7 separate regions of the Homo sapiens genome follow, and all the other regions are linked to region 2. The links come from fine-mapping of genetic effects on gene expression. A gene starts in region 2. Each other region holds a variant in brackets. All regions are shown on one strand. Distances are from middle to middle.

Evidence for each region.
Region 1: its variant is fine-mapped to the expression of MTUS1 in fibroblasts (GTEx, PIP above 0.99).
Region 3: its variant is fine-mapped to the expression of MTUS1 in anterior cingulate cortex (GTEx, PIP 0.93).
Region 4: its variant is fine-mapped to the expression of MTUS1 in whole blood (TOPMed, PIP 0.98).
Region 5: its variant is fine-mapped to the expression of MTUS1 in whole blood (INTERVAL, PIP 0.98).
Region 6: its variant is fine-mapped to the expression of MTUS1 in spinal cord (GTEx, PIP above 0.99). The same link has a PIP of 0.9 or more in hippocampus, putamen and substantia nigra.
Region 7: its variant is fine-mapped to the expression of MTUS1 in whole blood (TOPMed, PIP above 0.99).

What each region holds. Positions count from the first base shown.
Region 1 is chr8:17,604,143-17,608,210 of GRCh38, reverse strand. All of the region lies in intron 2 of PDGFRL (platelet derived growth factor receptor like), which reads right to left. LOC107986919 (a long non-coding RNA gene) reads left to right here. Exons shown (of 2, transcript XR_001745819.2): 2 at 2,165-2,565. Among named protein-coding and RNA genes, the nearest start is that of PDGFRL, 29 kb to the right of the region's middle. The variant C/G (reference allele first, on the strand shown) is at 1,608.
Region 2 is chr8:17,798,616-17,802,683 of GRCh38, reverse strand. It overlaps MTUS1 (microtubule associated scaffold protein 1), which reads left to right and starts at 1,590. Exons shown (of 15, transcript NM_001363059.2): 1 at 1,590-1,623. It overlaps MTUS1-DT (MTUS1 divergent transcript), which reads right to left and starts at 1,342. Exons shown (of 3, transcript NR_186403.1): 1 at 942-1,342. RefSeq lists silencers at 987-1,176, 1,217-1,276, 1,357-1,476.
Region 3 is chr8:17,638,129-17,642,196 of GRCh38, reverse strand. All of the region lies in intron 5 of PDGFRL (platelet derived growth factor receptor like), which reads right to left. Among named protein-coding and RNA genes, the nearest start is that of MIR548V, 41 kb to the left of the region's middle. The variant TTAAA/A (reference allele first, on the strand shown) is at 1,994.
Region 4 is chr8:17,700,821-17,704,888 of GRCh38, reverse strand. The region is part of intron 6 of MTUS1 (microtubule associated scaffold protein 1); the gene reads left to right. Among named protein-coding and RNA genes, the nearest start is that of MIR548V, 21 kb to the right of the region's middle. The variant G/A (reference allele first, on the strand shown) is at 1,995.
Region 5 is chr8:17,911,094-17,915,161 of GRCh38, reverse strand. It overlaps LOC124901892 (endogenous retrovirus group K member 25 Env polyprotein-like), which reads left to right. Exons shown (of 1, transcript XM_047422511.1): 1 at 1-4,068. Among named protein-coding and RNA genes, the nearest start is that of PCM1, 9.9 kb to the left of the region's middle. RefSeq lists enhancers at 2,090-2,878, 2,879-3,669. The variant A/G (reference allele first, on the strand shown) is at 2,301.
Region 6 is chr8:17,648,209-17,652,276 of GRCh38, reverse strand. MTUS1 (microtubule associated scaffold protein 1) reads left to right here. Exons shown (of 15, transcript NM_001363059.2): 13 at 2,315-2,431. It overlaps LOC124901891 (a long non-coding RNA gene), which reads right to left. Exons shown (of 2, transcript XR_007060834.1): 1 at 3,725-4,068; 2 at 2,320-2,714. Among named protein-coding and RNA genes, the nearest start is that of MIR548V, 31 kb to the left of the region's middle. The variant C/A (reference allele first, on the strand shown) is at 1,871.
Region 7 is chr8:17,695,464-17,699,531 of GRCh38, reverse strand. All of the region lies in intron 6 of MTUS1 (microtubule associated scaffold protein 1), which reads left to right. Among named protein-coding and RNA genes, the nearest start is that of MIR548V, 16 kb to the right of the region's middle. The variant C/G (reference allele first, on the strand shown) is at 2,012.

The DNA of each region.
Region 1 (4,068 bases), 190 kb after region 2:
GTAGGATGTGGTCTGAAAGGCAGAGACCAGGGGCAAATCAGGATGAACTCCCAAAGGCAATCCAAGCAAAGTCTTTGAGCAGGAAGGCACCAAGCGAGGCAGGAGACAGGCCCCTGAGGCCCCAGGACAGAGTGGACAAGTTGGGAATGCAGGACGGGAAGTGACAAGAGAAGGTTCTGGGCGGACTCCCCAGGGCAGCAACTTAGCAGCTGCCCACCTGCAGCCGGCTGTGTGGGTGGGACGGAGCCGCCAAGGCAGCCAAGCCCGGACACTGGAGGCAAACCTCTGACATCTTCGTTTTGCTTTTTTATAAATGTGCCATTCTACACAATTATACACTAGTGGACATAAAATTTCCCATTTTACATCTTATCCTTTATTCCTCTTTTCTTGCTCCCTCCTTTGACATATCTTTCAAAGCTGTTTTATTTACATCTTCTATATTCAAATACTTGGCCAAAAATCATGCTACTAACACACCAGTGTTTACATTTGAGCATTAAATCCCAGACGTCACCCACATGTATACTTACTTGTTAAAGCAACATTTCACTCATAAAATACATGCAATCACTGGTACTATAAACAATGCTCCATCTTGCAAGATGCCCCAAAATTATCATCTAACATAGTTGGTGATATTCCTACAGTGTCTTTGGTTTAACGCACTAGCTTGACTGTATTGTCATTTTCTTACTGTATTTTAATTCTGTGCAACACATCTGGGATAATCAATCCTAGACTTACCAGAAATGCTCAAGAAATGAAATGTTTTGTTGAAAGAAACTTTTTTTGTTGTTTTTTTAAATACATATTTGGTGTAGGTAGAAACATTATTTTTAAGTAAGAGTTAGCAGAAGACGTTTTCCCCAAAACTATAGAACGTGCTTCAACCAATTTCCCCTACTCTAATGACTAGATCGACGAGCAATGGGTGATCTAGAGAACCTTGGGACCATTAGTATGAGCATCAGTGAGCCCTCCACAGTGCTATGGACACAAAGAGTTTGTAGGGGATTGAGACACACGTCTAAAACGTTTCTTAAAACGAAACTCGCAGGCCAAGGCAGGTGGATCACTTGAGGTCAGGAGTTTGAGACCAGCCTGGCCAACATGAGGAAACCCCATTTCCAATCAAAATACAAAAATTAGCAGGGCATGGTGGCATGCACCTGTAATCCCAGCTACTCAGGAGCCTGAGGCAGGAGAATTGCTTGAACCTGGGAGGTGGAGGTTGCAGTGAGCCCAGATTGCACCACTGCACTCCAGCCTGGGTGACAGAGCAAGACTCCGTCTCAAAAAAAAAAAAAAAAAAACAAAAAAACAAAAAACGAAAAACTGGCTGTTTCTTATGATTTACCTCCTTTGGGTACAGTATGGTGAACAGAAATAGCTCACCGATATTTAGGTGGCTTACTATGTGTGCCAAGAGGTTTACACGCATGACCTCATTCTATCCTGAGAACAGCACAATGAGCCTCGTTCTATTATTACCTGCCCCCCACCCTTGTCCTGAACGGAACATAGCTGTGTTTTTCTGCAAGCTGAACGCTCTCAGAACATTGAGTACACTGGGGGAAGTCTTGTATCCTGCAGCCTCCACCCAC[C/G]CATCTCTGGGGAAATACGGAGGGCCTGCAGCTGGTGCCAGTGAGTCTGGAAAGAGAACGCTCTACCTTCAGCATTGGTTAGGTCACCTATTTGTCATTTCTGGGGTGGAAGACCATTTGAAGGCAAGTATTAGAGTTTGGGGGTGGCGTTTCCTTTTGACTGGCCACTGCAAATTAGACCCCAATTGGACCCATGCTCCAGATAAGAATGAAGGCAAAGTGAGAGCCTCCTCATCTTCATTTGTTCTGCTCAGAAAATAAAATAAAACGAGCTTTGGAGGAAAGTGAGTTCGCATACAAAAGACACTCACATAATGATATGAATGCACTTAAGTGTACTGAACTATCTCCTTAAAAATGGTTAATATGGTAAATTGTACGTTCTGTGTATTTTCGAAAAATATAAATTATTTGAAAAAAAATACCTTACTCAGCATAACACCAGAGTACTCTCCACAACATTTACCAAAGTCTGTGCAGATTCTTTCTCAATGGTGGGATTCTTCTGTTGATAACCACTTAAGATATTTCTCCTTTTCTTTTAAAATGTCTTCCAGACTCTCCCTCCAGATGCTGGATGACATGATGAGCCTGGCTGGGAGCCCACTCTCTGCTCCATCGGCCCACCCTCCCTTTGTGTTGTCTGTGGGTGGAGTAAGCTGTTGCCAACCGTGGCCAAATGAAAAGCCCGATGCCCTCCCTTCTCTCTAAAAGCTATTTATTGTTTTCCGAGGAGCCAGCCATCAAAGAGATCTCCTGTGCCCCACGCACTCCTCCCAACTCCCAGTTTTTGACTGAAAAAATGCTAACATCCGACCAGATACCAGAAAAACATCCTGAAAGACAATGCCTGGACTCTTATTTCCTAGGGAGCAGGACCAGGGCTTATTACCACATCAGCCTATCTTGTTTTTACTGCTGTGATGTTGCTGACAACATAGCTGAAATCTCCAACGTCTCCTTGTTCCTACCAGCATTGATTGGTTATATTTAAGCCTTCGTCCAGACCCACTTATTCTCCGTTTCATCTCATTTTCTTCCCTGGCTCAGCGCGGTGCCAAGAATTCTCTGGCTTTACACCCTGGAAGTGTGTTATGATGAGATTCAAGAAACAAAATGTGTGCAGAGAAGATGCAAATGGGTCACGTTGATCTCCCAGCAGGGGTTATTCAGATAATCCAGAATATTCTTACACAAAGTTTTTAATATTATCAACAAAATGCAAGAAAAAATTTAAAAAATTATTGCAAAAAAGCATGAGGTCCAAGAACACATCTAAAGACCCCAGTTGGAGTGAAATGGGTATGGGGCATGGGGAGGAAGGATGGAGGCAACTGACACAGGAAGAGACATTGTCTTTCTTCTGAAGGCAATGAGGACGGCTAACCCTCACAATGCGGTTTATATTACTCAGCATCTTCTTTCAGTCTCTCTCCCTCCTTCCTTCCCTCTCCCTGTCTCTCTCTCTCCCTTCTTTCATTCTTTCTGGGACAGAGTCTCACTCTGTTGCCCAAGCTGGAGCGCAGTGGCATGATCTCAGCTCACTGCAGCCTCCACCTCCCAGAGTCAAGCAATCCTCCCACCTCAGCCTCCCAGGTAGCTACGACTATAGGCACACGCCACCATGCTCTGCTAATTTGTGTATCTTTTTTCGTAGAGATGGGGTCTTGCCATGTTGCCCAAGCTGGTCTCAAACTCCTGAGCTCAAGTGATTCACCCGCCTCAGCCTCCCAAAGGGCTGGAATTACAGGCGTGAGCCACCATGCCCAGCCATGCATTTTCTTTGTATACATATTTAGAAAGGCTTTAAATCCTCGACTCATAATTGCCCTAAATTTTGCTCTAAATTTTTTTTAAATTTTATTATTATTATACTTTAAGTTTTAGAGTACATGTGCATGACGTGCAGGTTTGTTACATATGTATACATGTGCCATGCTGGTATGCTGCACCCATTAACTCGTCATTTAGCATTAGGTATATCTCCTAATGCTATCCCTCTCCCATCCCCCCACCCCACAACAGTCCCCGGTATGTGAAGTTCCCCTTCCTGTGTCCATGCATTCTCGTTGTTCAATTCCTACCTATGAGTGAGAACATGCAGTGTTTGGTTTTTTGTCCTTACGACAGTTTGCTGAGAATGATGGTTTCCAGCTTCATCCATGTCCCTACAAAGGACATGAACTCATCATTTTTCATGGCTGCATAGTATTCCATGGTGTATATGTGCCACATTTTCTTAATCCAGTCTATCGCTGTTGGATATTTAGGTTGGTTCCAAGTCTTTGCTATTGTGAATAGTGCCGCTATAAACATACGTGTGCATGTGTCTTTATAGCAGCATGATTTATAACTCTTTGGGTATATACCCAGTAATGGGATGGCTGGGTCAAATGGTATTTCTAGTTCTAGATCCCTGAGGAATCGCCACACTGACTTCCACAATGGTTGAACTAGTTTA
Region 2 (4,068 bases):
ATGCCTTTCCTAACAACACGGATCATGCTAGTTGCATCTATCTTTACAACAGGGATTTCTGAAGCAAATGAGAGGTGTCATTATGTAATGGAATTAAAAGAGAAGATTAGGAGTTAGGCTGGCTGGGTTTGCACTTGCCCTCACTGGCTGTGTGACCTTGCGCTAGTCACTTGACCTTTCTGAGCTTCAATTCCTCATTTGAATAATGGAGATAATCTGACCTATATACCCCTGGGTTTTGTAGTCAGGAAATAATGGATCATTGTACATATGAAAAGTCTTTACAACTATCAATGGCAAGACATCTGTCAGTTATTCTAATATTCATGGTATAGAAAACTGTGAAATACAGAGTCCTTACGTCTATTCTCCAAAAAAGTTCACTTCTCTTTAAAAGCTTTTAGCAAACCACAATCCAGGTAATTAAAAAGGAAATATTAAAATTTTGTTCTCAGGTTGTCTGACATTTCACGGTTCAGCAATGTGACATCTCTCACAGGCAGAATAGCATCTTCGGACAAGTTTTCTATTAAAAATATGCTTTATAGAAGAAAATATTTTACGGACCTAGAAGACAGCTGTCGATGAAATTTGCTCAGTTTAGCAAACAGCAAGGACTGTGTTTGTGTTTAGAGAAAAGTAGGTCGAGCCTAGTTTATCTCCCTGGGGTTCTAGACTCCTTTCCACGTTGTATCTCAAGCTCTAATAGCTGGAAAGCTACTTTCTTTAACCTTTAATACACACTTGCTAGTAAACTTGCTAGAAGCATGAAGATAATACAGACTGCGAATCAGCCCTTCTAAGAGACAATCACGACTCCTTCCTTGCAAGCTTCCGCCCTGATAATTCTGCAACCTTCCCACCTTCTATACGCCCCGCGGTGCGAGGCCCCTCGGCCTGCAGGTGGCCAGAGGCAAGCAGGAGTCAGATCCCCCACCTACCGCGGCCCGGCCTGGGCCCTAGCGCTGGGTGCGGCGGAGCCCCGGGCTCCTGCGGGGACGAGCGTGGTCCCGGGACGCGCGGTGCAGCCAGGTGCGCCGGCGGCAGTGGCAGCCGCTGAGCGCCGCGTCGCACGTGGCAACAGGTGCAGCGCTGTCCCGGGCTGGCGCCGGGGGGCGTGGGGCGCGTCCGCACTTAGTCCGGGAGCGCGCGGAGCGTCGGGATTGGGACCCGAGAGCGGGAGCGGAGAGCGGGAGCGCCCGAGCGGAGTCCAGCGCCCCGAGGTACGGCCTCGCACGTCATTCAGGTTCCCCGAGGGCCGTCCCCTGGGACGGCGGCTGGCCTTGGTCTCCCGCAGCGAGCCGCTGGAGTGGAGCCTTCGGAAGGAGCCGCCCCGGGTTGGGGCGGGAGGCCCGAGTTCGGCTATTTACAAGTTTCCCGAACTCCCCGCCCTGCTCCACCCCCTGGCGGCCCCGGAGGCGGGGAGGCGGGGAGGCCGGGGCTCCGGGTCCCGCCTGGTAGCCGCCGCAGGCGTGGGGTGGTGCCGCGCCGCGCGCCCCCAGGTGCAGACGCCGCCCCCGAGACCTCCGGGGCGGGTTCTCGGCGACCCCGCCAGTGGTGCAAAGGGCGCCAGCCCTCCCCGCCTCTGCGTCTTTGCTCCCGGAGCGCTTGAAGGAGCTGCGGGTAAGTGCGCGCTGGAATCTGTTCCCGCTGCCCGGCGGCCGGGGTGGGGAGGGGACAGGCGAGCGCGCCGCCCAGGGTGACGGGACCGGTCCTCGGGGAGGGGAGGGGGCGTTCCAGGGGCCTGGGGGCCGAAGCTGAGGGCTAAAGGGGGCGGCAGCGCCGGCGGAGCGGAGGCGGGTCTCACGTGGGCCAGCGCAGAGCCTGCGGAAGGGACGGATGCGGATCTCGTCGCTGTCACCTTGAAAGTGACCGAGGGGCTTGACTGTGGACTCCTTACGCCGCCCACCCGGGCCCGGCGGTCCCAGCCTTCTCGCAGGGCCCCTTCTCAGCAGAAGCAAGCGGGGCCGAGAAAGCGGGTGGAATAGGGTTGCTGCAGGTCCCAAAGACCCCTCGTGGCGCCTCGCTACTTTCTGCAGCTTGTTTGCACTTTTTCACGCTCTAGAAAAATCTCATCTTAATTAAGGTGACCTTATTGACTACTCTATAGTGCTTAGTGGACTTAGGTGTTCACTGAGGAACGTTTTTGTTCTTTTTTGAAGACGTACTCCTTTCTACCAAGTTGTTTGTTGATTTTTGACTTGGAGTAATTTGGGACTAGGAAGGAAGAGGTTAATTCATTTAGCCTGCGTAGTTACACATACTCTGTTAAATACTGTTTGTTTGAAGTAGTCAGTGTTCTAAGAAAGGAAATCCAGTGTGTTTTGTTTGTTTCAATGAAACCAAAGTCTTAGGCAAAACGGTGCGTGGAAGCTTTCAAGTTTTGCCAGGTGCAGGTGATCGAAAGTCAATCATCACTAAATCACAGCGCTGGGGCTGGAGGGTGGGAGTAGGGGTGTTACCAGTGAATTTCAGGAGGAAGGGAGGCAATGCAGGAGGGAGGGGATTAAAAAAGAGAGTCATTGCTTCCTGGGAACCAGTGACCTCTTTAAGGAGGGTATATACAAGATAACAGTGCATGGACAACTTTAAAAGGAATTGCATAAACGGAATTGCAATTCTGTAGACAGTTTGCTTTTTCAGGGATGGTTAGGGCAGGAAATGATACACAACTTAAAATGGTGATGTCCTGTTAGTACAGTGCTTTACAGTGTAGAAAGTGCTGTTACAGATTTTTTTTTTTTCATAGGCAATATATTCCATTAGGAAAGCTATACAAAGAAAAGATTAGAACTACATGCTTATCCTTAAAACCAAAGCTAAAAAACCTTAGAAGTGGAATTTAGTTTAAAATAATATGTAGTTATTTATGTAACTTGCACCACGTTTTTTCACCTGTTCTTTTTAAAATCAGGTTTATGAAGAGAAAATAATTCTTGGTAAATCTGCTTGGTAGAAAATCATGCTTGGAACAAGACCTTTTAATTATGTCAATAAGTCAAGGTTACATTTTGGAGTATAATAGGATTATAAGATTCTAGATAATATCTTATATTTTTTGGAAACTAACCTGCAGTTATTACACTCAAGCATTTAAAAAGCCTGTTACTTAATAGCCCTGTTCTGTTAACCCTGTTTGTTTTGATTTCAAAAGTAATCCGTGCTTGCTGTATAAAAATAGGTAGATTGAGAAAAGTGAGTTAAGCAATTTCAGCAAAGATAATCACAGTTAATATTTAAGAAAATACTTGTTAATATATAGAAAAATTTTTTATAGTTATATAGTTTATCTAAATATACTATTGCGTGGAGGTTTTTTCCTGATTAATGTATCATGAAAAATTTTCCATGTCATGAAATCTTCAGAAATCTTAGTGGCTACTTAATATTACATTACATAGATGTATCAAACTGGTTTTCATTTATTTCCACTTACTAAATATACTTTTGCAACAAATACGTTTTTAAAACTTTATGTGCAGGGTTAATATCCTTAGTGCCCTTGAAATACAGTTGATGGTTGGAAGATCTCCTCATACATATTGACCATTTGCTTTCCAAAAAATGTTTAACCAAATTATGTTCCCACCAGCTCTCTGTGAGAATACTGGTGTTACCGTATTCTTGTCAACATGTAGAATCATCCTTAAAGGGAAAAAAAAAAAATTCTTCCCAGGTTTATAGGTGAACAGTGCTTTCTCTATATTTAAACTTCAATTTCTTTGATTACAGATGATTTGAACACCAAAGAAATCTAGTTGTTTTCCATTTTGAAATTTGATGTAGTGCCAGATTTTTCTCCTGGGATATTAGTATTTTTCCATTAATTCATAAGAGCCTTTTATGGATTGATAGTAAATCTTTGCCATTCATATTGCAGATACTTTTCCCATTTTATCTTTGCTTTATATATTTACAGTAGTTTTGACATACACAAATTTCTTTAATGTTGATAAATCTGTTGACTTTCTCAAAACAGAATTTTTAACACTTCTAAATCGTAGCTTCAGAACTATATGTGACTGTGGTAGAAGATTTAAAAAAAATTTTCCAGCCGGGTGCGGTGGC
Region 3 (4,068 bases), 160 kb after region 2:
AAAAGCACCCACTGTATAAATGACTAAGAGCTCCCAATTGCTCAGATTTGAGAGAGGGAGAAGTATGATTAGGCCAGTGTGCCTTAGGACTCTAGTGGGAGAAAAGTTGTACCAAGGATGGGTAAGATAATGTACTACATGACAGGACCCCTATTTCTACAAAGTGCGATGGTCACTTTTGAGATGTCCACCCAACTCCAGTGATAAGAACATAGTATTTTCTGAATTCATGTAACAGAACTAATATATCACTAAGTGAATACCTTTTCTCATAAAATACCAAATAGCAATGTGGCGGGGACCTCTATTGAAAATCATCAATGTCCTGTAAGTATGACCAACACGTTTGATAATCAAGTGCCTGGTACCAGGATGCCGGAAAACACTATTCCCCAGAGACAGTTATTTTCTACCAATCACAGCCCATAGGCCAGAAGGATGTCAGCTACTTAATGTGTCTTGTGGAGGCCAAATCTCTTCTGGCAACAAAGGGATTATTCCGTGCTGGGAGCAGAGCTGTTATTTTAGCAAGCAGAACATGCACAAGGGCTAAATACGCTGCAATTGCTTTTATGAGAAGTCTACTTTAAAATTATCTCTGGCCTCACAGCACCTTTTTGGCGTGGTCTATGTCCACTTGGTGGATGTCTGCTCACAGCAGCTTGCCATGGGCACAGCTTGTATAGAGAACACTCTAGCCAAGTGAAACACAGGAATAGAAAGGAGCAGCAGAAAGAGCCCTATGGGCTCTCTCAGTCCCCAAGGAAGCCATTTCTGACTTTGTCTCACAGAGATCCCTGGAGAGGGCTACCAGAGAAACTGGGAAAAGACCACAGGGAGAAGGAAACTTCTAGCTGAACTTTGTAACAATTTTGACCAAACACAGTTTCCTGGACAGAACTCGGGTGAGGGGGTGAAGCAGGAGTGCAGACACAGCACAGAAACCGTGGCAGGTAGGAGATGTGAAATCTGAAAACCCTGTTTGCTTTCTTATCCAAGAGGCTGGTAGCCTGGGACAAGTTCTCAACCCTGCTCATCCACTGCCTAGAAACAAACTCGGTGCTGTTGGCAGGGACAGAGGGAGTGAGACCGGCCCTTTGGGCTACGTGGGAGCTGGGTGAGGCCTGTAACTGCTGGCTTTCCCCCACTTCCCTGGTGACCTGCATGACACAGCAGAGCAGCCATAATCCCCTGAGGAACATAACCCCATTGGCCTGAGAACCACACCGCCAGTCCCAACAGCAGCCATAGCAAGACCCGCCCAAGGAGAGTGTCTGAGCTCAGACACGCCTAGCCCACCCCCAACTAATGGTCTTTTTCTACCCACCCTGGTAGCCGAAGACAAAGGACATAATCTCTTGGGAGCTCTAGGGTCCTGCCCACCACCTGATCCTCCCTATACTACTGCAGCTAATGCTGTCTTTAAAGTGCCACCTCCTGGCAGAAGACCAACACAAAACTAGTGCAATAAACGAAACTACAACTAAGGACCCTCACAGAGTTCATCCATTTCACTCCCCTGCCACCTCCATTAGAGCAGCTGCTGGCATCCATGGCTGAGAGACCTGAGACATCAAAGGACTCTGTACAGGCACCACTAAGTACCAGCCCAGAGCCCAGTAACTCTGCTGGGTGGCTAGATACAGAAGAGAAATAACAATCACTGCAGTTTGGCTCTCAGGAAGCCACACACATAGGGGAAGGGGGAGAGCACTGTATCAAGAGAGCACCCCATGGGACAAAAGAATATGAAGAGCAGCCCTTGAGCCCCAGATCTTCCCTCTACCATAGTCTACCCAAATAAGAAGGAACCAGTAAAACAATTCTGGTAGTATTTCAAAACAAGTTTCTTTAACACCCCAGAAGATCACACTAGCTCACCAGCAATTTATCCAATCCAAAAAGAAATCCCTGAATTGCCAGAAAAAGAATTCAGAAGGTCAGTTATTAAGCTACTCAAGGAGGCATCAGAGAAAGGTGAACTCCAACTTAA[TTAAA/A]TCAAAAAAGATACAGGATATGAAGGGAAAAATCTTCAGTGAAATAGATAGCAAAAATAGAAAACAATCATAATTTCTGGAAATGAAGAACACACTTAGAGAAATGCAAAATACATTGGAAAGTCTTAGCAATAGAACTGAACAACCAGAAGAAAGAACTTCAGAACTCGAACATCAGATTTTTGGATTAACCCAATCGAACAAAGACAAACAAAAAAGAATTTAAAAGAATGAACAAAGCCTCCAAGATGTTTGGGATTATATTAAACAAACAAACCTAAGAATAATTGGTGTTCCTGAGGAAGAGGAGAAATCTAAAAGTTTGAAAGACATATTTGAGGGAGTAATCAAAGAAAACTTCCCTGGCCTTGCTAGAGAGCTACACATCTGAATACAAGAAGCTCAAAGAACACCTGAGAAATTCATTGCAAAAAGATCGTCACCTAGGCACAGAGTCATCAGGTTATCTAAAGCGAAGATGAAGGAAAGAATCTTAAGAGCTGTGAGGCAAAAGCACCAGATAACTTATAAAGGAAAACATGTCAGATTAACAGCAGATTCCTCAGCAGAAACCCTACAAGCTAGAAGAAATTGAGGCCCTACCTTCAGCCTCCTTAAACAAAAGAATCATCATCTAAGAATTTTGTGTACAGCAAAACTAAGCTTCATAAATGAAGGAGAGATACAGTCTTTTTCAGACAAACAAATGCTGAGAAAATTCGCCACTACAAACCCAGCACTGTAAGAAATGCTAAAAGGAGCACTAAATATTGAAACAAATCCTTGAAATACACCAAAATAGAACCTTCTTAAAGCATAAATCTCATAGGACCTATAAAACAAAAACACAATAAATAAATAAATAAATAAAAACCAAGGTATTCGGGCAACAAATAGCAAGATGAATAGAATAGTACCTCACATCTGAATACTAATGTTGAATGTAAATGGCCTAAATGCTCCATTTAAAAGATTCAGAATGGCAGAATGGGTAAGAAGTCACCAACCAAGTATCTGCTGTTTTGAAGAGACTCACCTAACAAATAGGACTAACATAAACTTATGGTAAAGGGCTGGGAAAAGATATTCCATGCAAAGGGACACCAAAGTGAGCAGGAGTAGCTATTCTTTTTGTTTGTTTTGTTTTGTTTGAGACAGAGTCTCACTCTGTCGGCCAGACTGGAGTGCAATGGCTCAATCTTGGCTCAATGCAACCTCCACCTCCCAGGTTCAAGTGATTCTTGTGCCTCAGCCTCCTTAGTAGCTGGGATTACAGGTGCAGGCCTGTCTTATAGAGGAGTAGCTGTTCTTATATCAGACAGAACAAACGTTAAAGAAACAGCAGTTAAAAAAGAGAAAGACGGACATTATGTAATGATAAAAGGACTTGCCCAACAGGAAAATATCACAATTATATATATATATATATATATATATATATATATATATATATATATATATGCACCTAATGCCAGAGCTCCCAAATTTATAAAACAATTACTGTTACACCTAAGAAATGAGATAGACTGCAACACAGTAATAGTGGGGAACTTCAATACTCCACTGTCAGCAATAGATAGGTAATCAAGACAGAACATCAACAAAGAAACAATGGATTTAAACTATAACCTAGAACAAATGGACTTAAGGGCTATTTGTAGAACATTCGACCCAACAACTGCAGAATATACATTCTATTCATCAGCACATGGAACATTCTCCAAGAGAGACCATATCATAAGCCACAAAACAAGTTTCAATAAATTTAAGAAAACTGAAATTATATCAAGTACTCTCTCAGACCACGGTGGAATAAAATTGGAACTCAATTCCAAAAGCAACCCTCAAAACATACAAACACATGGAAATTAAATAACCTGCTCCTGAATGATCACTGGGTCAAGAATGAAATCACGATGGAAGTTAAAAAATTATTTGAACTGAATGAAAATAGTAGCACAACCTATCAAAACCTCTGGTATACAGCAAAGGCAGTGCTAAGAGGAAAGTTCATAGCATTAAATGACTACATCAAAAAGTCTGAAAGAGCACAAATAGACAATCTAAGGTC
Region 4 (4,068 bases), 98 kb after region 2:
GACAACTCTATAATAGAAGCTAAATGGACATACCACCCAAAGAGATCTACAGATTCAGTGCAATCCCTATCAAAATCCCAGTGTCATTTTTTTAAAGAAATAGAAAAAACAATCCCAAAAGTCATATAGAATGACAGAGGACTGCAAATAGCCAAAACAATCTTGACAAAGAACAAAGCTGGAGGCATCACAGTTCCTGATTTTAAAGTATATTACAACACACAGTAATTAAAAGAGTATGGTACTGGCACAAATATAGAAACATAGACCGATGGAATAAAATAGTCTAGAAATAAATCCGTGCATATACGGTTAGCTAATCTTCAGCAAGTGTGCCAAGAATACACAATAGGGAAAGGATAGTCTTTTTGTAGATAGTACTGGGAAAACTGGACATCCACAAGCAAAATAATGAAATTGGACCCTTATCTCACACAGTACACAAAAATCAACTCGAGATGGATTAAAGACTTAAATATAAGATCTGAAACTATAAAACACCTCAAACAAAACATGGGGCAAAACTTCATGTCATTTTTCTTGGTATGACACCAAAAGCCCAGGTAACAAAAGCAAAAATAGACAGGTTGGAGTACATCAGATTAAAAATCTGCAGAGCAAAGCAGTCATTTAATAGCATGAAAAGGCAGCCTATGAGATAGGAGAAAACATTTGCAAACCATACGTCTGATAAGGCGTTATTTACCAAAATAATTGAAATCAGGATGTTGAAGAGATACTTGCATTCCCATGGTCTGTCGCCCCCAATATTTCAATGTAGGTTATTTTTGTTTCCTGTAAGTGTTGGCCGGTCTGAGAAATAAAGAGAAAGAGTACAAAGAGAGGAATTTTACAGCTGGGCCTCCAGGGGTGACATCATATTGGTAGGTCCGTGATGTCCACCTAAGCCGCGAAACCAGCAAGATTTTATTAGGGATTTGAAAAGGGGAGAGGGTGTATGAACAGGGAGTACGTCACAAAGATCACATGCCTCAAAGGGAAAAAGGCAGAGCAAAGATTACATGCTTCTGAGGAAACAGGACCAGAGCAAAATCAGAAACTCCTGATAAGGGTCTATGTTCAGCAGTGCACGTATTGTCTTGATAAATATCTTTACAGAAAACAGGATTTGAGAGCAGAGAACCGGTCTGACCTCAAATTTACCAGGGTTGGTGTTTCCCAATCCTAGTAAGCCTGAGGGTACTGCAGGAGACTAGGAGACCAGGGCGTATCTCTCTCAGTCCTTTTTTTTTTTTTTTTGAGACAGAGTCTGGCTCTGTCACCCAGGCTGCGGTGCAGTGGCGCGATCTCGGCTCACTGCAAGCTCTGCCTCCCAGGTTCACGCCATTCTCCTGCCTGGGACTACTAACTGGGACTACAGGTGCGCACCACCACGCTAGGCAAAGTTTTTACATTTCTAGTAGAGACGGGGTTTCACCATGTTAACCAGGATGGTCTCGATCTCCTGACCTCGTGATCTGCCCGCCACAGCCTCCCAAAGTGCTGCGATCACAGGCGTGAGCCACCGCACCCGGCCAAGCTATCTCCACCGCATAGGACAGACACTCCCAGAGCGGCCGTTTATAGACCTACCCCCAGGAATGCAATTCTTTTCCTAGGGTCTTAATATTATATTCCTTGCTAGGAAAAGAATTTAACGATATCTCTCCTACTCGCACGTCCATTTATAGGCTCTCTGCAAGAAGAAAAATATGGCTGTATTCTGCCCGACCGCGCAGGCAGTCAGACCTTATGGTTGTCTTCCCTTGTTCCCTAAAATCACTGTTATTGTGTTCATTTTCAAGGTGCACTGATTTCATATTGTTCAAATAAACATTTTGCAATCAGATTGTTCAGTTAATGCAATCATCACAGGGTCCTGAGGTGACGTACATCCTCAGCTTACAAAGATAACAGGATTAAGAGATTAAAGTAGGACAGGCGTAAGAAATTATAAGAGTATTTTTAGAGAAGTGATAAATGTCCATGAAATC[G/A]TCACAATTTATGTTTCCTCTGCCGTGGCTCCAGCCGGTCCCTCCATTCGGGGTCCCTGACTCCCTGCAACAATGGTCATTGCCACATTATGATAGCCAGGATGTGGGAACAACCTAAATGTGTCCATAGGATAAAGCAAATATGGCATATATGTGCACTGGAGTATTATGCAGCCTTTAAAAAGAAGAAAGTCCTGCCATATGCTGTGATACAGATAAAGCTGGAGGACACTATGCTAAGTGAAATAAACCAGTCATGGGGCAAATACTGTATGATTCCACTTATAGGAGGCATCTAACATAGTCAAAGTCAGAAACAGAGTAGAGTGGTGGTTGCCAGGGAATGGGAACTTGATGTTCAATGGTACAAGGTTTGTTATGCAAGGGCGAAAAGGTTTTCGAGATGTTTGTTACAGCATTGTGCCTACAGTTAACAATATTATATTGTTCTTTTAAAATTTTGTTGAGAAGGTAGATCTCATTAAGTGTTCTTGCCACAATTAAAAAAACTAAACAAAAAGAAAGGGAAAAATAAGTGGATGGACAGAAAAGAAATATATGAAGGACTAAGGAATATATGAAAAATGTTTACCAAATATGAGTTAAAATAATGTGCTCTCAGTTCTTGCTTATTTCTTAATGTTAGCACCTGGTACTGGCGAAGAATAAGAAACAGCACTCATATGTACAGCTCCTTGGTAAATTACAGCAGCTGTAGCAGAGAGCAAACACCTTCCACCCGGGAATTCTGTTTTTCAGAATTGGTCCTAGGAAAGTAATTTATTTACTTATTGACTGCTTTTCAGAATTGTTTACAATGGGGGAAAATTGGAAACAACCTATATACCTTACAGGAATTAAGTTCGTTGACATTTTAAAGACATTTTTGAAGCCATTAAAATAACAATATAAATGCTTATTTAATCCCATGGAAAGATAAGTGTGAAATTTTTAAGTTTAATAAGTTTATTAAGCTTATGTTAAGTTTAAAAACAAATTGGAGAGCAGTCTGATGTGTAAGTAATTTAAATTGAAAAGAAAATTCTGGCCGGGTGCGGTGGCTCACGCTTGTAATCCCAGCACTTTGGGAGGCCAAAGCAGGTGGATCACAAGGTCAGGAGATTGAGACCATCCTGGCTAACACGGTGAAACCCTGTCTCTACTAAAAATACAAAAAAAATTAGTCAGGCGTGGTGGCGGGCGCCTGTAGTCCCAGCTACTCAGGAGGCTGAGGCAGGAGAATCACTTGAACCCGAGAGGTGGAGCTTGCAGTGAGCCGAGATCACGCCACTGCACTCCAGCCTTGGCGACAGACCGAGGTTCCGTCTCAAAAAAAAAATTCTACGATGAACATATGAGGTTTTGTTTTTTAAAAACAAACATTGTACATGAATTAAAAGCATTACTGCTTTTAATTTAAACTCTTATTTTGCTTATTGCAAAATAAAAGGCAATGTCACTGTTCTTTGAGAGCTTATCATCTTACAGGTGGGTGGAAGTTGATTGTTTTTCTAATTGCTTTGTGTTAATTTTTTGATAATTACAATTTATCTTCGTACTGAGGAAGAGGATAGTGTGGAAAAATTGGGCCTTAAGTTGAAGTTTCTACAACTGGAATAGAGAATTGAACTTACTACATTAAAGACTGTGAGGAGTAAAATGAAGAAAATGTTGCAATTAATGCTGTGTTAGGGAAAGTAAGGAGATAAATATAAAGATTAATATTCCATATTAGGCTAAGGAAGATTGGTTGGATAGAGATGCTTGAATCTCCACACAAGTCACTTGGTTTAAATTTTAATCTTCTTCCTCATTCTTTATGATCATTAACAACAACAAACAATAACAGATAAATTGAAGGCATTTTGTAGCATCTAAGCACCCCATACAGATTATGCTAGATTCTTGTCTAGAATCATGACATCATTGTTTTCTAAATCACTGATTTAAAAAAACACATTTCTATGCAGACCAGTGGAATTTCTGTTTGTTTGAATATACTGTGATATTACAACATACTGACTTATGAAACATTCTGTATCATCCTCTTTTGTTATTTAAGCCTTAGTATAGA
Region 5 (4,068 bases), 110 kb before region 2:
TGGGATCATCCGGAGTGGCCACCTCCAATAAGGCAACGTAACCTGGAGCCTTGGAGGTTTGAATCTCCAATTTGCCCTGTTTCACGAATGGATAAATTAGGGGCTCAGGAATCAAGAACACGTTTTGCAGCACCAGTACAGCATAGGGCTGCACTGCCACCTAATGTCAATGAATCACCATTTCAAATGGTTATTCGGCAGGCTAGGTTAGCTGGAGATCCCGATGCCTGGCAGTTTCCAGTAGTTTTGGAACTCCCACAGCAGCAGGGTGGTGCCCATCAGGCGGTATGGGAACCATTTTCTTTTAAGCTGCTTAAAGATCTCAAAGCAGCTGTTGGTCAGTAAGGTCCCAATTCGCCTTCTGTCCAGTCACTATTACACTCAGTAACTCAGGACAAGCGATTGGCCCCGGACGATTGGGAGATTTTAGCAAAAGCTACTCTTTCGCCCTCCCAATTTCTTCAATTTAAAAGTTGGTGGACCGATGAGGCTCAAAATCAAGATCAAAAAAACCGTGCTGCTAATCCTGTTGTTGCCATTTCACTTGAACAACTGTTGGGAGTTGGGGGCCAATGAGGAACTGTACAACAATTAGTGCTTCAGGATGATGCCGTTGAGCAAATTCGCAATTGTTGCTTGAGGGCATGGGAAAAAATTCAGGACCCGGGAACTACTTATCCCTCTTTTAATTCTGTCAGACAAGGCTCAAAAGAACCGTATCCTGATTTTATTGCTCCTCTTCAAGATGCAGCTCAGAAGGCTCTCACTGATGAAAGTGCCAGGAAGGTGATTATAGAATTCTTGGCTTATGAAAATGCCAACCCTGACTGTCAATCACCTATTCGCTCTGTGAAAGGAAAGGTTCTGGTGGGAGTTGATGTAATCAATGAGTATATCAGGGCATGTGATAGATTGGTGGAATCATGCATAAGGCTATGATAATGGCTCAAAACATGGCAGGATCAAAGGTGGGAGATCCAGTGAAAAACTTTTCAGGCAATTGTTATAACTGTGGGCAATTTGGAAATACAAAAAAGGAATATAAGAACAAATCAAACAAACAATCCAGATCTAATCAAACAAAGGAGCCACCTGGCTTATGTCCCAGGTGCCAGAAGGGTAAATGTTGGGCTAAACGGTGTCACTCCAAATTTGATGAAAATGGCCAACCCTTGCAGGCGCAATTGGGAAATGGGAAGAGGGGCCAGCCTCAGGCCCCACTCCAAACTGGGGCATTCCCTCTCCAGCAGTTTGTCCGTCAGTGGGCACCAGTGCCCTTAATCCCTCAAGTGACCACCACAGTAACATAATTGGCGCCAGTTACAACAGGGGGCGCTGCTTTAGATTTATGTTGCACCAGAGCTGTGTCTCTGCTTCCAGGGGAACCACCTCAAAAGGTGCCCTCTGGAGTATTTGGCCCTTTACCTGAGGTAACAGTTGGACTTGTTTTAGGGAGATTTAGTCTAAATTTAAAAGGAGTTCAAATTTATACTGGAGTGATAGATTCCGATTTTGTGGGAGAAATTCAATTGGTTATTAGTTCTAGTATTCCTTGGAGTGCAAGCCAGGCAGAGAGAATTGCTCAATTGTTGTTATTACCTTATTACCTAATTGTTGTTATTACCTAAGTAGGAGAAAGTACAGTAAAAAGAGAAGGTGGTTTCGGCAGCACTGATAGCAAAGGAAAAGCAACTTATTGGGTAAGTCAAGTTTCTGAAAATAGACCTGTGTGCACAATAACGATTCAGGGAAAACTCTTTGAAGGACTTGTCGATACAGGCGCTAATATTTCTGTTACAGCCCTGGATCAGTGGCCAAAAACATGGCCCAAACAGAGAGCTTCTATGGGTTTAATTGGAATAGGCATGGCATCTGAAGTTTATCAGAGTGTTACAATTTTACACTGTTTAGTACCAGATGGACAGGAAGGCACCATCCAACCTATAATTACTGCCATTCCCATTAATTTGTGGGGAAAAGATTTGTTACAACAGTGGGGTACGGAAATCACCATTCCCTCTATGATTTACAGTTCAGAGAGTCAAAGCATGATGACTAAGTTGGGGTATACTCCTGGAAAAACATTAGGAAAGAATGAGGATGGAATAACTCAGCCAATTGAAGCTTCAGTTAAACTTGACCGAAAAGGAATTGGGTACTCTTTTTAGGGGCGGCCACTGTTGAGCCTCCAAAGCCCATCCCATTGAAATGGAAAACTCAAAAACCTGTGTGGGTTGATCAGTAGCCGCCTCCTCAGCAAAAACTGGAGGCATTACATTGACTAGCAAAAGAGCAATTAG[A/G]CAAAGGACATATTGAACCTTCTTTCTCACCGTGGAATTCCCCGGTTTTTGTAATTCAGAAAAAATCCGGTAGATGGCGCATGTTGACCAACCTACGAGCGGTTAATGCAGTCATTCAACCGATGTGGGCTCTCCAACCGGGGTTGCCATCCCCAGTCATGATTCCAAGAGAATGGCCGGTGGTAATAATTGATTTGGGTCGGGCGCGGTGGCTCACGCCTATAATCCCAGCATTTTGGGAGGCCGAGGCGGGAGGATCACGAGGTCAGGAGATCAAGACCATCCTGGCTAACACGGGGAAACCCCATCTCTCCTAAAAATACAAAAAATTAGCCGGGTGTGGTAGCGGGTGCCTGTAGTCCCAGCTACTCCGGAGGCTGAGGCAGGAGAATGGCGTGAACCCGGCAGGCGGAGCTTGCAGTGAGCGAGATCGCGCCACTGCATTCCAGCCTGGGCGACAGAGTGACACTCCATCTCAAAAAAAAAAATTTGATTCGAAAGATGGTTTTTTCACCATTCCTTTGGATCCCCAGGACTTTGAAAAATTTGCATTTACAATATCTGCTATAAATAATAAGGAACCAGCTACTAGGTATCAGTGGAAAGTTTTACCCCAAGGAATGTTAAATAGTCCTACAATTCGTCAAACTTTCGTTGGGAAGGTCATTCAGCCCGTCCAGGATCAGTTTCCTGATTGTTAATATTATTCATTATGTTGATGACATTTTATGTGCTGCTACAAGTAGGGATAGACTTATCAAATGTTTTTCTATGTTACAAGAAATGGTGGGGCTTACAGTTCTCGCTATAGCGCCAAATAAAATTCAAACTACTACACCCTATCATTACCTAGGAATGAAGGTGGAGGAGAGAACAGTTATGCCTCAAAAGGTAGAAATTCGTAAGAAGTCCTTAAAAACTTTAAATGATTTTCAAAAATTATTAGGAGACGTTAATTGGATAAGGCCCACCTTAGGAATTGCCACTTATGCGAGGTCTGACTTGTTTGCTTTGCTGAGAGGGGATCCAAATTTACATAGCAAAAGAACTCTGACGCCTGCAACAGCTTCAGCTGTTAAGAATAATTGAGGAAAAAATTCAAAGTGCTCAAGTCAGTAGAATAGATCCTAGTGTTCCCTTACAGCTCTTGGTGTTCCTACTCTCCATTCTCTTACAGGAGTGATTATTCAAGATGTTGACTTGGTTGAATGGTCTTTTTTACCCCACAGTACAACTAGGACTTTTTCAATTTACTTAGATCAAATAGCTATTCTTATAGGCCAAGCCCAATTAAGAATAGTTAGATTCACTGGCACAGATCCAGATAAAATTGTAGTTCCTTTAAACAAAGCACAGGTTCAACAAGCCTTTATACATTTATCAGAATGGCAGTCTAATTTAGCTGGTTTTGTTGGCCATATAGATAATCATTACCCTAAAACAAAAATTTTTCAGTTCCTAAAATTGGCTACCTGGATTTTACCTAAAATAACCAGTTCTATCCTCTTGGAGGGGGCTGTAACTGTCTTTACTGATGGCTCTCAGAATGGAAAAGCAGCTTATACAGGACCAGAAGAAAAGGTTATTCAAACCCAGTTTCATTCTCCACAAAGAGCTAAGCTACAAGCAGTTATATTTGTATTGGAAGATTTTGATCAACCTGTTTATATTGTCTCTGACTCTGCCTATGTGGTTCAGGCGACAACAATGGTAAAAACAGCTTTAATAAAATATATTTCTGATGATCAGCTAAATTTTTTGTTTAGTT
Region 6 (4,068 bases), 150 kb after region 2:
TGTCAATTCTGAAAAGTACAAATCTCTTGGAAGCTGAAATTTCTTGTGGCACATTTGTCCTTTTTCCCCAGCCTTACCCCAACCTTTGTCTTTTTGAAAAAAATTTGTTTCCTTGCTGCTTCTGCCTTTAGTACCACTGTTTTCATTTCATGTTTATACTCTGAGACTGCAGAAGCAAAGCTTTTCTCCACTTCAAATCTCTGGCCAGCTCTAGAAAGTACATGTGTGGATCTCTCAGTGAGACCTTCTGCAAATAATGTCATTGGGAGACCCTCTAGCTATTTGATAACATTAGATGAGCTTATATTCAAAGAAACTTCAAAGCTATTTATTCTAGAAGATTCTTAGGAAGAGTCAGTGATTTCAAAAGAAATCTAGACTTACATGCAGGGATATGCAGGGTATAAACTTTATTGATGGCTCAGGAAACAGGTTTGAAAGAGCTTCCGGTACACAAAGGGGATTCTTCTACTGCAGCCGCTTTTGAAAAGCTAAGGCAGAGTCAGAGTGAGGAACACAGAAGCATCCAACCGCTTCTGTCACGTAAGCATGCTGAGGCTGCGGAAAAAGAGTGCGTCTGACTGTAGTCCGGGAGAAAGGGATGGGCTGGCAGAGGAGGAGGAGAAAATGCAGAGGGTACAAGTCTTGTAAATGCTCTAATTTTAAAACTGACGGTAAGTTATGCCATTTCCCTCTAACAAAAATGAGGTAGGATTCGCTATTTTCAAGGTAAAAAAAAAAAAAAAAATCCTGCGTACAAGGGTAACACTGTATAAAATGTATGAAATTTAAAAATTGATACTTAGTATTTGCATGTACTTATGGGGTACGTGTGATGTGTTGAGACAATCATAGACTGTGTAATGCCCAAGTCAGGGTATTTAGGGTATCCGTCATCATTATCATTTCTTTGTGTTTGGAACATTTTATATCTTCTCTTGTAGCTATTTTGAAGTACGCAATATATTATTATTAACTATAGTCACCCTACTATGTTCTTGAACACTAGAACCTATTCCTTCTGTCTAACTGTATGTTTGTATGCATTAACCAACCTCTCCTCATCCCACCCCACCCCACCTCCCACCATACACACGCATACCTCTCCTAGCCTCAGGGAACTATCTAAAGAACCTAGAATTAAAGATGTATTAGTCCCTGCCCTGACCCTTTCCAGCTCTGGAAGCTTTCCTGATCTTTCCTGAGTAGGGCGCTTAACCCGTGGAACACGTTTCCTCTTTCTGTGTGAAGTAAGGGGTTTGGATTAAGTAATCCCCGAGGCCCCTTCCTGGATTCTCCCTAAGGATTGGTCCAGAGCAGAAACCAATGCCCCGGAAGATAAGCTTGATGACCACACCACCGACTCTTACCTAAGACGTTGCTTCATTAAACATATCTGATCAGTGGACCATATGCTGTTCTTCTGTAGCATAAATTTTGAATGGTTTAGTTGAATTTCCGAATAAAGCAAGGAGTGGGTGGGCGGTGGTGGGAAATCCACACTGATGGTGTGCTCTCAGAGGACGCCTCCCCTGATGTAGCATTTATTTTGGAGAGTTTTGTGTTTTTGAGACAGGATCTTGTTCTGCCACCAGGTTAGAATGCAGTGGTGCATTCACAGTTCACTGCAGCCTTGACCTCCTGGCTCAGTTGATCCTCCCGCCTCAGCCTCCTGAGTAGCTGGGACTGTAGGCATATGCCACTATGCCTGGCAAACTTGTAATTTTTGGAGAGAAATTTAAATAGGCTGTGTACTCCATGCCGTGTAGGTACTGGGGTGTCACAATAGAAAATGATAGTATTATGTCTGCCCTAGAAGTATGGCCCAGTCAACGTAGCCCCATCATAACAAAAATCCAAACACTCAGGA[C/A]ATTGTTATCCCTGTTGTTTTCCAGAGAGCCGTATAATGCACTGCTTTTTCTTTCCTGATCAGTTTGTTTGGTAGGAGAGAACTGTTGTTCCCTGTTCTCCCAGAAAATGCCAATAACTGACTCACAGATTGCCTCATCTCCAGCCAAGATTCTGTTTTGTATGTAAGCAAAGTTTTTCTCTTGATACAATAACATGTTTGATGCAACTCACATTTTTGCATATTAAGTTACTGATAAATAAGTGAAATGTTTGCTTTCAGTATTAGGACCAGTCTTCGACATTAAGGTGCTCTTGTTTTTCACCTCTTTCTTTGAAATTGCTCTAAGATGATGAACATCTGTCGCTTGCTACTTGTCTAATGTCTCAATCTAATCAAAGATTCTTTCTGTTAAGAATTTGAACTATGTGGAATAAGAGCAGTATCTTGCTGTGTCCTTTCCAGAAAAATCCTCAGATCATGTATCTAGAACAGGAGTTAGAAAGCCTGAAAGCTGTGTTAGAGATCAAGAATGAGAAACTGCATCAACAGGACATCAAGTTAATGAAAATGGAGAAACTGGTATGTTTCCTTCAGAATGAAAGAGGATCTTACAAATGGGGTAATATGTGTGAAATTGAGCCCTGCATTTTAGAACTGTGGAGTTGGGTTAACTGCTCCTAAAGATATTTAGAAATTATACAAAAGATAAAGTTCACATTTTCTTTCCAAGTTTGTTCCATATTTATTCATTGCTGCCTCCTAGAATGTTTTCTTTTTCAAGGAACATGTAAAACAGCACCCAGTCCTTGGAAAAACTACAAACAAATCAGGCTTATATTTCAGTGGTATTTTGGATCTTCACCTGCATAAGAAAAATGTTTAAATATCTATGTAAAATCAGTACTTTAATATACCAGCCACCCTGGACAGGTTTCTTAGATCCAAAACAGTTGGATACGTTTAATAGAAATGAATAGAAATGAATTTAATAGAAATGAATAGCAATACTATTTATCAAAATTCTTCATCTTGCTTCTTGTGAATTAGCATGTGATAAAAGAATCGTGGGCTGGGCGCAGTGGCTCATTCCTCTAATGCCAGCAGTTTAGGGAGGTTGAGATGGGTGGGTCACTTGAGGTCAGGAGTTCGAGACCAGCCTGGCCAACATGGTGAAACCCTGTCTCTACTAAAAATATAAAACTTAGCCGGGTGTGGTGGTGGGTGCCTGTAATCCCAAGTACTGGGAAGGTGGAGGTTCCATTGAGGTGAGATGGCACCAGTGCATTCCAGCCTGGGCGACATAGCAAGACTCCATCTCAAAAAAAAAATTGTGCTATAATAAGATTAATCCATTTGGACAAGTAGCAGGTGTTACCAAAAATATGAATTAACATTCACTTTGCAGTGTCTAGAACAGAGAACGATGTTAGTGTGAGTGGCATGTTCAGTGTTCAGCGTCAGTCTTGGCCCGGCCCTGAAATACAGCTGCTGCCAGCCAGGACTCTAACCAAGTTGGCAGAGTTTGGCAAGGCAGCTTAAGTGATCCCCGCCCTCGCGGTGCCTTGCTGTTGACTGTCCAGCTGCCGCATGCTACTGGCCTCTTCTCCCCACAGTGATGAGTGACTCAGGCTTCTACAAGTGCCTCATTCAAACCCAAACCAGCCCTGGACAGTAGGGGACATGGGGGACCTCTCTGCTGCTTGGTTTGTGTTGGTTTGGCGTTTGGTTTTCTTCTGGAGACTATGACTTCTGTTGAGGGAGATAACGGCCAAGCCCCTGTGTGGATATACCAGCATTTTGAATTATCAGGAAATTTTTGTAAAGGAAGGAAAGGAACTCATGGTTGTTAATGGGCCAACCTAGTATACATACCAGTTCCTGCCAAAGGTCGTCCTGTTCGACTGAGTCTGGTATCTTCTAATCTGGTAGTCAGGGATGACTCAGATGATCCTGTTAATAGGACTGCTCCATATGCCATTCATGCATCAAAACTTTCAAAAAATCATGTGCAATAAATCAGACTTTGCTGTAAACTTACCAACACATTTAATTTCTGATGATCTACTATTTGTTTCTTGCCATGCCCCAGAGGTATCCTGATAATATCCTTCAGCCTTGCATTGTGTATGTGTGCAAGAATGAGTTGATACAATGAGAGGGAGACCCACTGTTCCCTTCATATTTGTAAATTACAGGCCTCTGATGAAATTAAGAGA
Region 7 (4,068 bases), 100 kb after region 2:
TTAACAAGGATAATTTAAGGCTGGGCGTGGTGGCTCACCCCTGTAATCCCAGCACTTGGGAGGCCGAGGTGTGTGGATCACCTGAGGTCAGGAGTTCGAGACGAGCCTGGCCAACATGGTGAAAACTCATCTCTACTAAAAATACAAAAATTAGCCAGGCATGGTGGCGGGCACCTGTAATCCCATCTACGGAGGCTGAGGCAGGAGAATCACTTGAACCCGGGAGGCAGAGATTGCAGTGAGCAGAGACTGCGCCATTACACTCCAGCCTGGGCAACAAGAGTGAAACTCCATCTCAAAAAACAAACAAAAACAAACAAAAAAGGATAATTTAGAATTTGCTGTTACTGAAGAAACAACAAACACAACCAAAAGAAAGAAAAACCACCTCCTACTATATGGAGTGGTGGCATGTCTGTTTTTAATCATGGCAAAATTTGACTCTGTTCTTCTGTTTGTTTTTAATGCTGATTGGTTTCTTGGTTTTTACAAGGTTTTGGGAGGTAGAGGAAAAGGTTCTGGTATATTTTTAGTATGTAGAATCTGGAAGGAAAAGGTGTTCAGGTTTTTTAATAATAAACTGGGATGAAGTAAAAGGCAACACCTAGAAGCAGCTGGCCTTGATTTTAATTCCTTGATCATTTAGCTTCAGTTGCTGTGGTGCAATGTATGTAGCAGGTTTTTCGTCAGTGTATGAACTAGGTGTATCTTTCTCACAGGAACCCTGGACAGGTTATTGGGTCTGTCTCTCTTGCTGACAACCTCTAAAATGGCAAGTTGGGGGCTTGAGTGAAGAGGGAGGGGGCTTGAGGGAAGAGAACTTATTTAAATTTTCTCTTCCTCCCTCTCTCTTCCCTGCTTCATACCCTACTCTATAGAATTTCTAAAAGAACTGCTTCCTGCTAGTTTTAATAGCACTTAATAGTGTTATTTATGGTAACAATTCTGCATTTATTTCTGAGTCTTATTTTCTAGGAAATCTTGGAAACAGGCATAGGACATTTTTAAAACATTGTTTTGTTTATAACATTTTTAAAAATGTTAAGAGCTCAGGCTATTCGTGGTTTAATGGAATTAGCTTAAGTGGGCATATTGTTGTTGTTAATTCTTATAACCATATCTTTGTTTTTCAAGTTCTTTTGGTTTTGCTATCATGTTTTAACATACTTTTACAAGCCACTCTACTGAAATAAAAATTAGTAGATAACTGGCAAAAGATATTCATAACTGTGCCCTCCTCACACTCCTAGTCTTGAAAGACCACTATAAGAGACCACATGATGTTCTATAAATGCAATTACTCATGCAATAAATGTAGTCTTTAGAATATGCCTATCTGATGGACTATTCTTCTGGAACTCTGATATTACATCTGATAGAGAAACCGTATTAATCTTTTACTGTTGATTATTTGTGAGGTCCTCAGCATGTGGGAATTAAAGTTGAACTTTAACCTTTTGACAATCTGTCATTAATATATTAGAATAGAAATTTTCTTAAATATTGTAGTTGAGAACATTTATTGCCTGAAGTCTTTAAAAAAAAAACTTTTCCAAAATACCAGGTTTAAATGTAGTTTACATGTAAAATATCTAGAGAAAAAATGCTCATGTTATCATTGTGAATATAAGGAGTGAAAAATGTTAAAATCAGGACACAGTTTACTTTCAGGAAATCCTAATTTTTTTCTAATTATGAAAGAAACATTAGGCACTTGAAGTAGTTAATTTCCCCTAGCGATCTTTCAAGTGGTTACAGGATCTGTGACATTATTGGTTGTTCTGTAAAGCTCCTGAGACCACCCACTTTCTCCTCCCCTTTACCATCTCGGATGAAAACCATAACAACTCCACAAGCATGCACAGTGTGATGTGGTTCAGAGGCAGCTTCTAGACCTGCAGGAGGGAGATTGTATTCAGAGGAAGAGCATCATTTTGGCAACATCTGAAAGTGAAAACGGAAGCCAGAAACACTTGGCCAGCCCTGGGGGATTTTTTTCTTCTATGCCTCT[C/G]TGGTGGAATGACATTTGCTGTGTAGGCATCTTTCCTCTGACTGTATTTCTTGGCCTTGAAGAGTACTGAGTTTAAAAAGACAGTATGTGACAGTCCATGGAAATTGCCTCTTCTGTGAAATCTCGCCACCTGCTCCGAAGACATGTTGTTGTCTCCCAAATTCTCCTTATCCACCATTCACATACGACTGACGGCCAAAGGATTGCTTCGAAACCTTCGACTTCCTTCAGGGTTTAGGAGAAGCACTGTTGTTTTCCACACAGGTCTGTCTCGCATAGATCTCTGTTTAGTGTTGCACGGGGGATGTCTTCATTAATTTGCAGATGTTTATCAGAGGTTTTTCCAAGGAGACAGATAATTGGAGGAAAAAAGCTCTCTCTAATGAGAGATGAGGCTTAATTTAAAAATTGTTTTCTGTTGCTTCAGCACAAGTGCATAGTACTTTTACTTTTGGCAGCAGATTGTGTTGTTTGTGTTGATGGAAGGCAGAATTGTTGCCTTGGTGTTCCCTAGCTCTTTTCTCCATCACCAGCCAAATGTGTGAAAATCAGCACCTGTTAAATTATATTTTAGTTCCAGTGTTTGGGAAATAGGACACAGGTAAATTTAGAAGAATATTTCCTGTTCGCCTGTGTAGATGAGAAGGTTCCCATCGTTTTTCATTGGATAGTTTCTCAGTCAGATTTGACAGTTAATTTTAATATGCTAAAAGATTTCTGTATACTAAACACTTCTGACAGAAAACATCCTAATGGTTATGGGGAAGTAGTAAGTGAATCACAAATCTAGTTTTCCAATCTTCATAATAAAAGTGTGTGCAGTCTCAAAATACTTCCCCTGAGGTTTATGTTTGTATCTGCTTATTATTTTCGGTGCCTAAGATGAAAATAAATTTAGTATATATTTTAGGCACGTGGTGACCTGTCTGCTCACTTTTAGGGCATTGGGTTGGCCTATGTTGCTACTTTTGTCCTAGATGATTTTACAGCTACAGTAAATTAAATCAGTTTTATTCTGTAAAATATGTTAGCTGGGGTGTTTTTATATTTGTTTTGGGCTGAATAGCGTTAGGTGTCACAGGAATGTTTGATGAGGATGTAAATAGATTTTTGTTTCTGCTTCATGTGCACGTGACCCCTCGTGTTTCTTATTTTCCACGTGGCTCATCTCTGTCCCTGGTGATTTGTTTTCAGCTGACTATTTTTAGTTTTCCCAGAGGCATCTCCCTTCTCTGTGGGAGAATTCTCATTTTTTCCAGCACCTCTCTCTCGTGTTTCATAACTCCCCTTGACCTGTCATTTGATTTTGCCAGCCTCTCCCTTTCAGTCTGAGCTGACGGTAAATGGGGGGAGGCAGCGAGGAGGAGGTCAGCAGTGGCCCTCCTCTCCCAGCTCAGGGCCGCTGCAGCCCTTCCAACTGAACAAATTAATAGGGGGGAAAAATAACAAAGGGTGCCCTATATTTGCAATAATTTGTCTGATCTAAAGTAGCTCCAAATAGCTTTTAATTTTAAAGAGTTCTTTTAAAAATACTGTAATCCACGCTCCAAGTTAAAAATCAAACAGTATGGAAGGTTGTGCAGTCCTAGGCAAGCCTCTCTCTTACCCAGAGTCCCTGTCTGCTCTCCGTGGAGACAGCCGCTCTCAGCTGCTTGCATAGTGTTCTTGCACGTTTCCAGTCACATGTAAATCTATGCAGGTCTTTTTTATTCTTTTTTGTTATACAGAAATAAAAGCGTACTATATATTCTATACCTTTTTAAAGTTAATGTGTTTTAGATTTGCATGTGATCACATGTTTATCTACCTCATTAAAAAAAATAGTTCTGTAACATTCCATTATTGGGTAAGTCATGATTTACTTAACCAGTGCTCTAGTAGTAGACATTCTAAGTTGTCTGTAGTGTTGTTGTGAAGCAGATAGCTTTCCAAGACAGCGTAAGCAAACGACACAAGGCTTCTATTACCAGGGTTTAGTTGATAGTGATGTATTGGACACATTTTATTTTCTAAACTTACGTAAAACTATTTTCTGTTTATTTGCAGTCATAATTTTT